2 linked regions of the Homo sapiens genome follow. The protein of the gene in region 1 interacts with the protein of each later gene in a biochemical or structural test. Each region holds a gene or a part of one and is shown on either strand. Other genes may lie near its edges.

What was found. The genes of interacting proteins can lie anywhere in the genome.
Region 2: of the proteins of FGA (region 1) and FAM20C, one has a biochemical effect on the other in vitro, tested with the Homo sapiens proteins (2 studies listed by IntAct).

What each region holds. Positions count from the first base shown.
Region 1 is NC_000004.12:154,584,666-154,587,784, forward strand, and holds the end of FGA (fibrinogen alpha chain isoform alpha precursor), read right to left. Parts: intron 2,993-3,119; coding exon 2,847-2,992; intron 2,254-2,846; coding exon 829-2,253; 3' UTR 610-828; downstream 1-609. UniProt on the Homo sapiens protein: Cleaved by the protease thrombin to yield monomers which, together with fibrinogen beta (FGB) and fibrinogen gamma (FGG), polymerize to form an insoluble fibrin matrix. Fibrin has a major function in hemostasis as one of the primary components of blood clots.
Region 2 is NC_000007.14:251,495-255,245, reverse strand, and holds part of FAM20C (extracellular serine/threonine protein kinase FAM20C precursor), read right to left. Parts: intron 3,115-3,751; exon of another isoform or gene 2,603-3,114; intron 1-2,602. UniProt on the Homo sapiens protein: Golgi serine/threonine protein kinase that phosphorylates secretory pathway proteins within Ser-x-Glu/pSer motifs and plays a key role in biomineralization of bones and teeth.

The sequences.
Region 1 (3,119 bases):
GGTTAAAATTCAGTGATCCATCCATTCTTTGCTGGATCAAAAGCCATCCTCCCAAACTGGTCTCTTGATCGCAATAAACAGAAAAAATCTTACTGGATCCCGGTAGCTTGATATTGAAAATGCCACTTTGGGTACCTGAAGGATGTGTTTGGAGGACATCATCACAGTCTAAAAAAAAAATTAAGCTGGTTGGAAGAAGTTATTCTCATTTAACTTTACAAAGATAGGCACGGCTCAGATTAAATAAGGCAAATACTGTTTCTTTCCCTTCCTTTCTTTCTTCCTCCTTTCCTTCCCTCCATAGGGAAAGGATGCACTTACAGTGGGATAGAACTTATGCAAATAAGCGGTTATTTATACCTACAAATTGCAAAGGGGATTTTCCTCAAATGTATTTGGAATTTTACTTGCACAAACTAATAGCAAGTAACCAGTACAGGTAGCTAAGCATCACTTAATACTAACACAACTTGTATTTAGCCTGACCTAAATGTCAACTGAGACACATACTAAAAATGTGATTAATCAGTTGGGTGACAATTCTAATAGCACACACTTTGAATAGTGAAAGAATTTGACTAAATAAGCTCAAATAGAGTTTCAGAGGAATTCATTCATCCATTTAACATGTATTTATTGAGTCATGGCTCTGTACTGTTAGGCATTTGGGAATACAGAGATGAGACAGACAAAGGCCCTGCCCCCAAGGAACTTACAGTCTAGCACAAAAACAGACCAAAAAAGTGTAGTTTCAATGACGTGTAACAGAGAGTTAAGAAGGAAATGCAAGGGGCCATGGGAACACTGTGCAGAAATATTTAACTTAGTCTAGGGGGACAGGGAAGGCTTCCCCAAAGGAGAAGTGTGGATACCTCTGACAGGGCGAGATTTAGCATGGCCTCTCTTGGTGCTATGTGTTCCTTCATGATCGGCTTCACTTCCGGCCTCATCTGCCATTTTATAGCTCTTGCTTTCAAATGTGGAGTCTCCTCTGTTGTAACTCGTGCTACTAGTAAATTGTTTGCTGTAACTTGAAGATTTACCACGGGAAGGGAATTCAGCTATCCCAGGGTGATGAGAACTGGATTCCTTTGTATTTGTGAAGATGCCAGATTCTGAGCCCCTAGACTCAGTCTCACTGACAAACTCTCCTAACATAGGTGAGAAGAAACCTGGGAATGTTTTTCCAGTTGAGGCAGTGTCGAAGAAGGCAGCTTCATCAGGGTGCCTATGGCGGAACCCATCCAGAGTACCTATGCCAGACAATGTGCCTAAATCCATTGCCTCGGGACAGTCAGAACCATCTTCGGAGGTCACCACTTCTTTGGTAACTTCTTTGTGACCATCAGGACCAATAACAGTCTTAGTAACGGTTTTAGAGCATGAACGACGCGTGGTGGTTGTGCTACCAGAGGTGACCTTCTCTTTACCAGTCCTGAGCTCTTTATCTCCTTTAGAAGTGACCAGTTTTTCTGTGTGGTACTCTCTCCTTGTCCCTGGACTTACATTTCCTGACACCTCTTCAAATGTGCCCCAGTCTGGGTTGTTAGGCCTCGCGTTCCCAGAGCCTGGGCTATCTGGCCTAAAACTTCCAGATTCAGAGTGCCATTGTCCAGTACTACCAGATACAGAGCTCTCAGAGGTCCAGTGCCCAGCACTTCCGCGTTCAGAGCTGCCAGGATTCCAGGTTCCGGTACTACCAGGTCTAGGGCTCCCAGGGTTTTGGTTTCCAGTACTTCCAGTTCCAGAGCTCCCAGAGTTCCAGCTTCCAGTACTTCCAGGTCCAGAGCTCCCAGGTTTCCAGGTTGCAGTCCCTCCAGTCCCAGAGCTCCCAGGGTTTCGGTTTCCAGTACTTCCAGGTCCAGAGCTCCCAGAGTTCCAGCTTCCAGCACTGCTAGGGTTCCTGGGGCTTTCCGTCTCTGATCCGGTTCCATAAGAGGTGGAGCCTCCTCGAGTAATCTCATTTCCACCAGGTCTCTCTAACTCCATTCTCATCTGCGGCATGTCTGTTAATGCCTTCCACTCTGGGGGTACCTTCTGAAGCTGGCTCTTAAAATTTCCGGGAACCAAGTCTGGAACTGGTTTCATTTTTATCAGTGGTAAGTGTTGCCTATCTCTAGAGGGAAGTAAGTCTTTGGCAATGACCTGTTCAAGTTGCTTCTGCTGATCTTCATAGTCCTTCAGATCTACTTCACGAGCTAAAGCCCTACTGCATGACCCTCGACAAGATCGGATCTTAATATCAATGTCCACCTAGAGAGAGGGGAGAAAAATAAAGAGAAAATGTAGATACAAATACATAAACTACGTCTATTGAGTTCCTGGTAGTTAATTTTCCTTCTGGAAACTGGTTTCATTTTTTTTGACTCGGAGACCTACCACTTAATATTCTCTGTTTTCTGCCTATCGAGCACCCTCAGTGGAAGAGATGTTGGGTATTGCAGGGCTAGCCAGGATAAGCAATGGATGCTGTTTAATTCATCTTAGCCTCAGAATGGATCAAGAGTAAGGTGCTATTCCCTCTCAAAGGAAACGCTAATTAAATGATCCTTGGTGAAACTCAGGCTGAGGGCTCAGAGGTGTGGTGATGTAATGGGCTTTGGAATTAGACAGGGACTGAACATTTGCTTTTGAAATTTACTATCTATGTACCGTTGGAAAATTTACTTAATATCTCTGAATTTTTTTTCTTCAACTGTGGAGTGAGGAAAATAATACCTACTTTTAGGTAGATGATGGATATAACACTTTTCTCTGCATATAGTAGACACTCAGTGCATAACTATCGCCTTCCTTTTCCCTCTACTCAGAAACAAGGACATCTGGGACCACAGCCACATACTTACCTCCAGTCGTTTCATATCAACCAACTGAGCTCTAACATTTTTCTGCAGAAGCTGGATATGCTGTACTTTTTCTATGACTTTGCGCTTCAGGACTTCAATTCTGCTTCTCAGATCCTCTGACACTCGGTTGTAGGTATTATCACGGTCTGAAATCGAAAATATGGTTATTGAAGTAGCTGCTGAGTGATTTGTCTGTAATTGCCAGCAAAAAAGAAAGGAAGAAAGGAAGGAAGGAGAAAGAAAGAAAGAAAGAAAGAAAGAAAGAAAGAAAGA
Region 2 (3,751 bases), on another chromosome or scaffold:
GCCGGCTGGGACGGGGGAACCGCCACCTCTGTGCGCTGCTGGCGGGGGGTGCACACGGCACAGCCACGGCGGAAACGGTCTGCAGCCCCCAACTGATTAAACACAGTGTTTCCACGTGACCCAGGAACTCCCCTCCCATGTAAACCCCTAAGAGAAGAGAAAACATTTCTATACAAAAACTCAGACACGAATGCTCACAGCAGCACCGCTCACCACAGCCGAAAAAGAGAGAATCCACCCAAATGTCCATCAAGAGAGGAGTGGACACGCCAGGTGAACATGGTCCATCCGTGCGATGACACGAAACGAAATGAAACAAGAAGAGGAATGAAGCCCTCACTGAACCCGAGAACCCTGTGCTCCGCGAAGGAGGCCAGACAGAGGAGGCCACACGTCGTATGACCCTCTTAATATGAAACGCCCAGAACAGGCAAATCCAGATAGACTGGGGGTGGGACGCTGCTCGTCGAGGGCTGCGGGGTGAGGAACGGTGACCGCCTGCTCATGGTACGGGGCTCCTTTTTGGGGTCAGCAGGACATTCTGGATTTAGACAGTGGTGATGGTTGCACACCATTGTGGATATACTAAAAACCACGGAACTGTACGCTTTTAAATGGTAAATTTTGTGGTACATGAATTATACCTTAATAAAGAAAGAATAATCAGAAAAATGCAAGCGCTGTCCAGGCCCGCTAGCAGTGCGGGTTCACTGCTCTGATGCTGGAGGCCCGGCCGACGGCGCTATTCCTGTATTTATTTGCTGATTAAATCTAGTTTTTCTTGCTTTATTTGTTTGTGGAGAAACTCTGGAAAGCCTGGGGCTGTAGAACTGGTGAGAACGTGGTTTTGTTGGGGCCGGAGCCCCGAACCTCACTCACAGCTCCCCCAGTCCCAGCATTCCTATGCAGCCAGGCTGAGTGATTCCAGGGGTCTCTCCTGGCTGCAGGGCAGGCTCCCCGTGGGATCAGAAGGCAGGTTCGGCAGGGCGCTTCCCAGCGGAGTGAACAGGAGGGTGGCCGGTCCCGGCTGCCCTTTCTTAGCTGAACAAGCTGAGGTTCGGAGAGGAAACGGGGTGGGTGCCAGGCCGACCTGGCCCCCACCACACCCCACGCACCCGGCAGGTCCCGGCTGGTCTGGTTCCAACGCCCCGATCACCTGCCTGCCCCCTCCTTCCCGCGCCCCCTCACCCCACTGCCAACGCTGGGTCATTATTGTAAGAACGAACGATCAAGGAAAGACCAGCTGCAATCCTGTCTCGTGCTGATACAGATTAGTCGGCAGCCCACAGTCGGACGAGGCAGCCCCCACCGGGGCAGGAGCTCCATTTCAGGAGGAAAATCTTCATCTGAGCGCTCATTGGCTGGAGGCTTAAAATTCGTCTGCTGTTAACAGCCTCCCGTCCTCGCCTAAGCCGGTTTCAGATGGTATCGTGTTAAAAGAGAAAGGCATTTCTCGGGCCCACAGCCATTTCTCTTTGCAGATCCAAATCGGGTATTAAAGGGGCCTCCCGGGCGGGGTTAGGAGGGCTTGGAGCTGTGTGACCTCAGGCAAGTGCCTCCCTGCTCTGTGCCCAGCCCCTCGCCCGGGAAGCGGGGGTCCCAGCAACGCCGGCATCACGGGCTGGGAATTACACAAAGAAGCCACGGGAGGCAGCTGTCCAGGTAACGAAGGCTGCCCTGCACTTGGAGTGGGGGCTTTCTGGGAGGAAGGAGCGTGAGTCCTTTTCCATTTTAGTAATAATAAAAGACACAAACAGCAAGGAGAAAGCCAGGGTAGCGGACAAACCCAGGAGAGATCCTGCCTCCTCCAGTCACCAGGAAATGGCATCACGGTTGGCCTCCCGGAGAGCGCAGACAGGCAAGAGTGTGGCTCCTGGCAAGGACGAAGATGGCTCCTTCACCCTGCGGCTCAAGCGTCTCCCACCATTCCTTTCGCTGACTGTGTCGGGGCTGACCCAGCAGGAGGAGCGTTTTGCAAGGCGGACGTCTGCCATCTGCCACCTTGGACAGCTGTGCCCTGGACAGCTGCGGGCCCGGCGGACACTGTTACTTAGGGCAGCGGCTCTGGGTGCCCGAACTGGGTCCATCGCTGGAAACGTGTCTCCTGCAACCTGCATTTAAGCTGGACGCAGCACTGGAGAGAGTCCTGAGGACCGCCCTGCCCAGCCCAGGCCACCGTGGCAGGAAAAAAGGCGAAGCGGATGATGGCAAAGCCCTTCTGTCCAGGCTGTGTCGGGCTGAGTGGCTTCCGGAGCTGCTGAGGACCTGGGCCTGGTCCTGGGGGCGCTCACCTTGCAGAAATGCAAAGCTGTGCACGGATGACCTGTGCACCTCTGGGACGTTTGCAACGTGCAGACGGTAACTTACGTGAGAAGTAGGGGAGTGTGTTCTGTGAGCGTTTGGGGCTTAGAAGATGTGGGCTCTGACTGCGGCCCGGCCCCTACACAGCTGTGCGGTGCTGGGGTCCTAATTGCCCTCTCTGAACCTGAGCTCCACAATCCCTACGTGGGGCAGGGGGCTGCCTGGGGCTCAGCCTCCTGCTTCTCCCTCCCAGAGCCCACCTTCCCCGAGCACTGGCCTTGGCCACCTCTCGCCCCCTCACCTTGTTCCTGGCTGATGGGATTTTCCCTTTTCTGATTGACCCCACGGGAGGGTCACTCAGGCCACGGGAGGCCGAGGGGGTGTCTGCAGTGGGCTCAGCCCTCCAATGTGCTCTGGGCTCCAGCAGGGCTTCCGAGACCACCTGGCATCCGTGGTTGGGAGGCCGAGGGGGTGTCTGCAGTGGGCTCAGCCCTCCAATGTGCTCTGGGCTCCAGCAGGGCCTCCGAGATGACCTGGCATCCTTGGTCGGAAGGCCGAGGGGGTGTCTACAGTGGGCTCAGCCCTCTGATGTGCCCTCGGCTCTGGCAGGGCCTCCGAGATGACCTGGCATCCTTGGTCGGGAGGCCGAGGGGGTGTCTACAGTGGGCTCAGCCCTCTGATGTGCCCTCGGCTCCGGCAGGGCCTCCGAGATGACCTGGCATCCTTGGTCGGGAGGCCGAGGGGGTGTCTACAGTGGGCTCAGCCCTCTGATGTGCCCTTGGCTCCGGCAGGGCCTCTGAGGTCACCTGGCATCTGTGGTTGGGAGACACATGCAAAGCAAAGTGGAGCAAACGAATCTGAACAGATTTTGTTCTCTAGGAGAGGAATCCGGGCTCCTGGGCCCCTGCTGCTTGAGAGAAAGTCAAATGCTCACAGAGGCTTCTGGAAGAAATCGGACTGACAGGGCAGCGCGGCTGGAGTGGCAGCAGTGGGGTTCCAGGGGCTGCGTTCAGGGGCGCCTGACAATGCTGGGCCTGGCTGCTCTGGGAGATTCAAGGACTCGTCTGTCCAGGCAGGGACATGGAACTGTTGGGGCCTCTGGTGGCCGAGGAAGTCTTGGATTTCAGGGGAGAAACTTGCGCTGCCCTGGAAAACGCAACTAATATCCAGAACCAGGAGTGGCCAGGGAAGCTGCTGGAGCGCTTAATAAAGTGCTGGCTCCAGGGAGACGTGAGAAGGGATTCCAGCAACGGCACCAAAGGTGGTCGATGGCCGCCTTGCAGCACAGAGCTCAGGGGCACTCCGGTGACCACCGTCCCTGGCCTGCTGAGGACCTGGGGATTCCAAGTGTCAGCCAACATGGGACATAGAGGTGACTTAATTCACCTGCTTGGACTAATAATCAACTCAGTCTTTTTTTTTTTTGAGACGGGGTCTCACTCTGTCACCC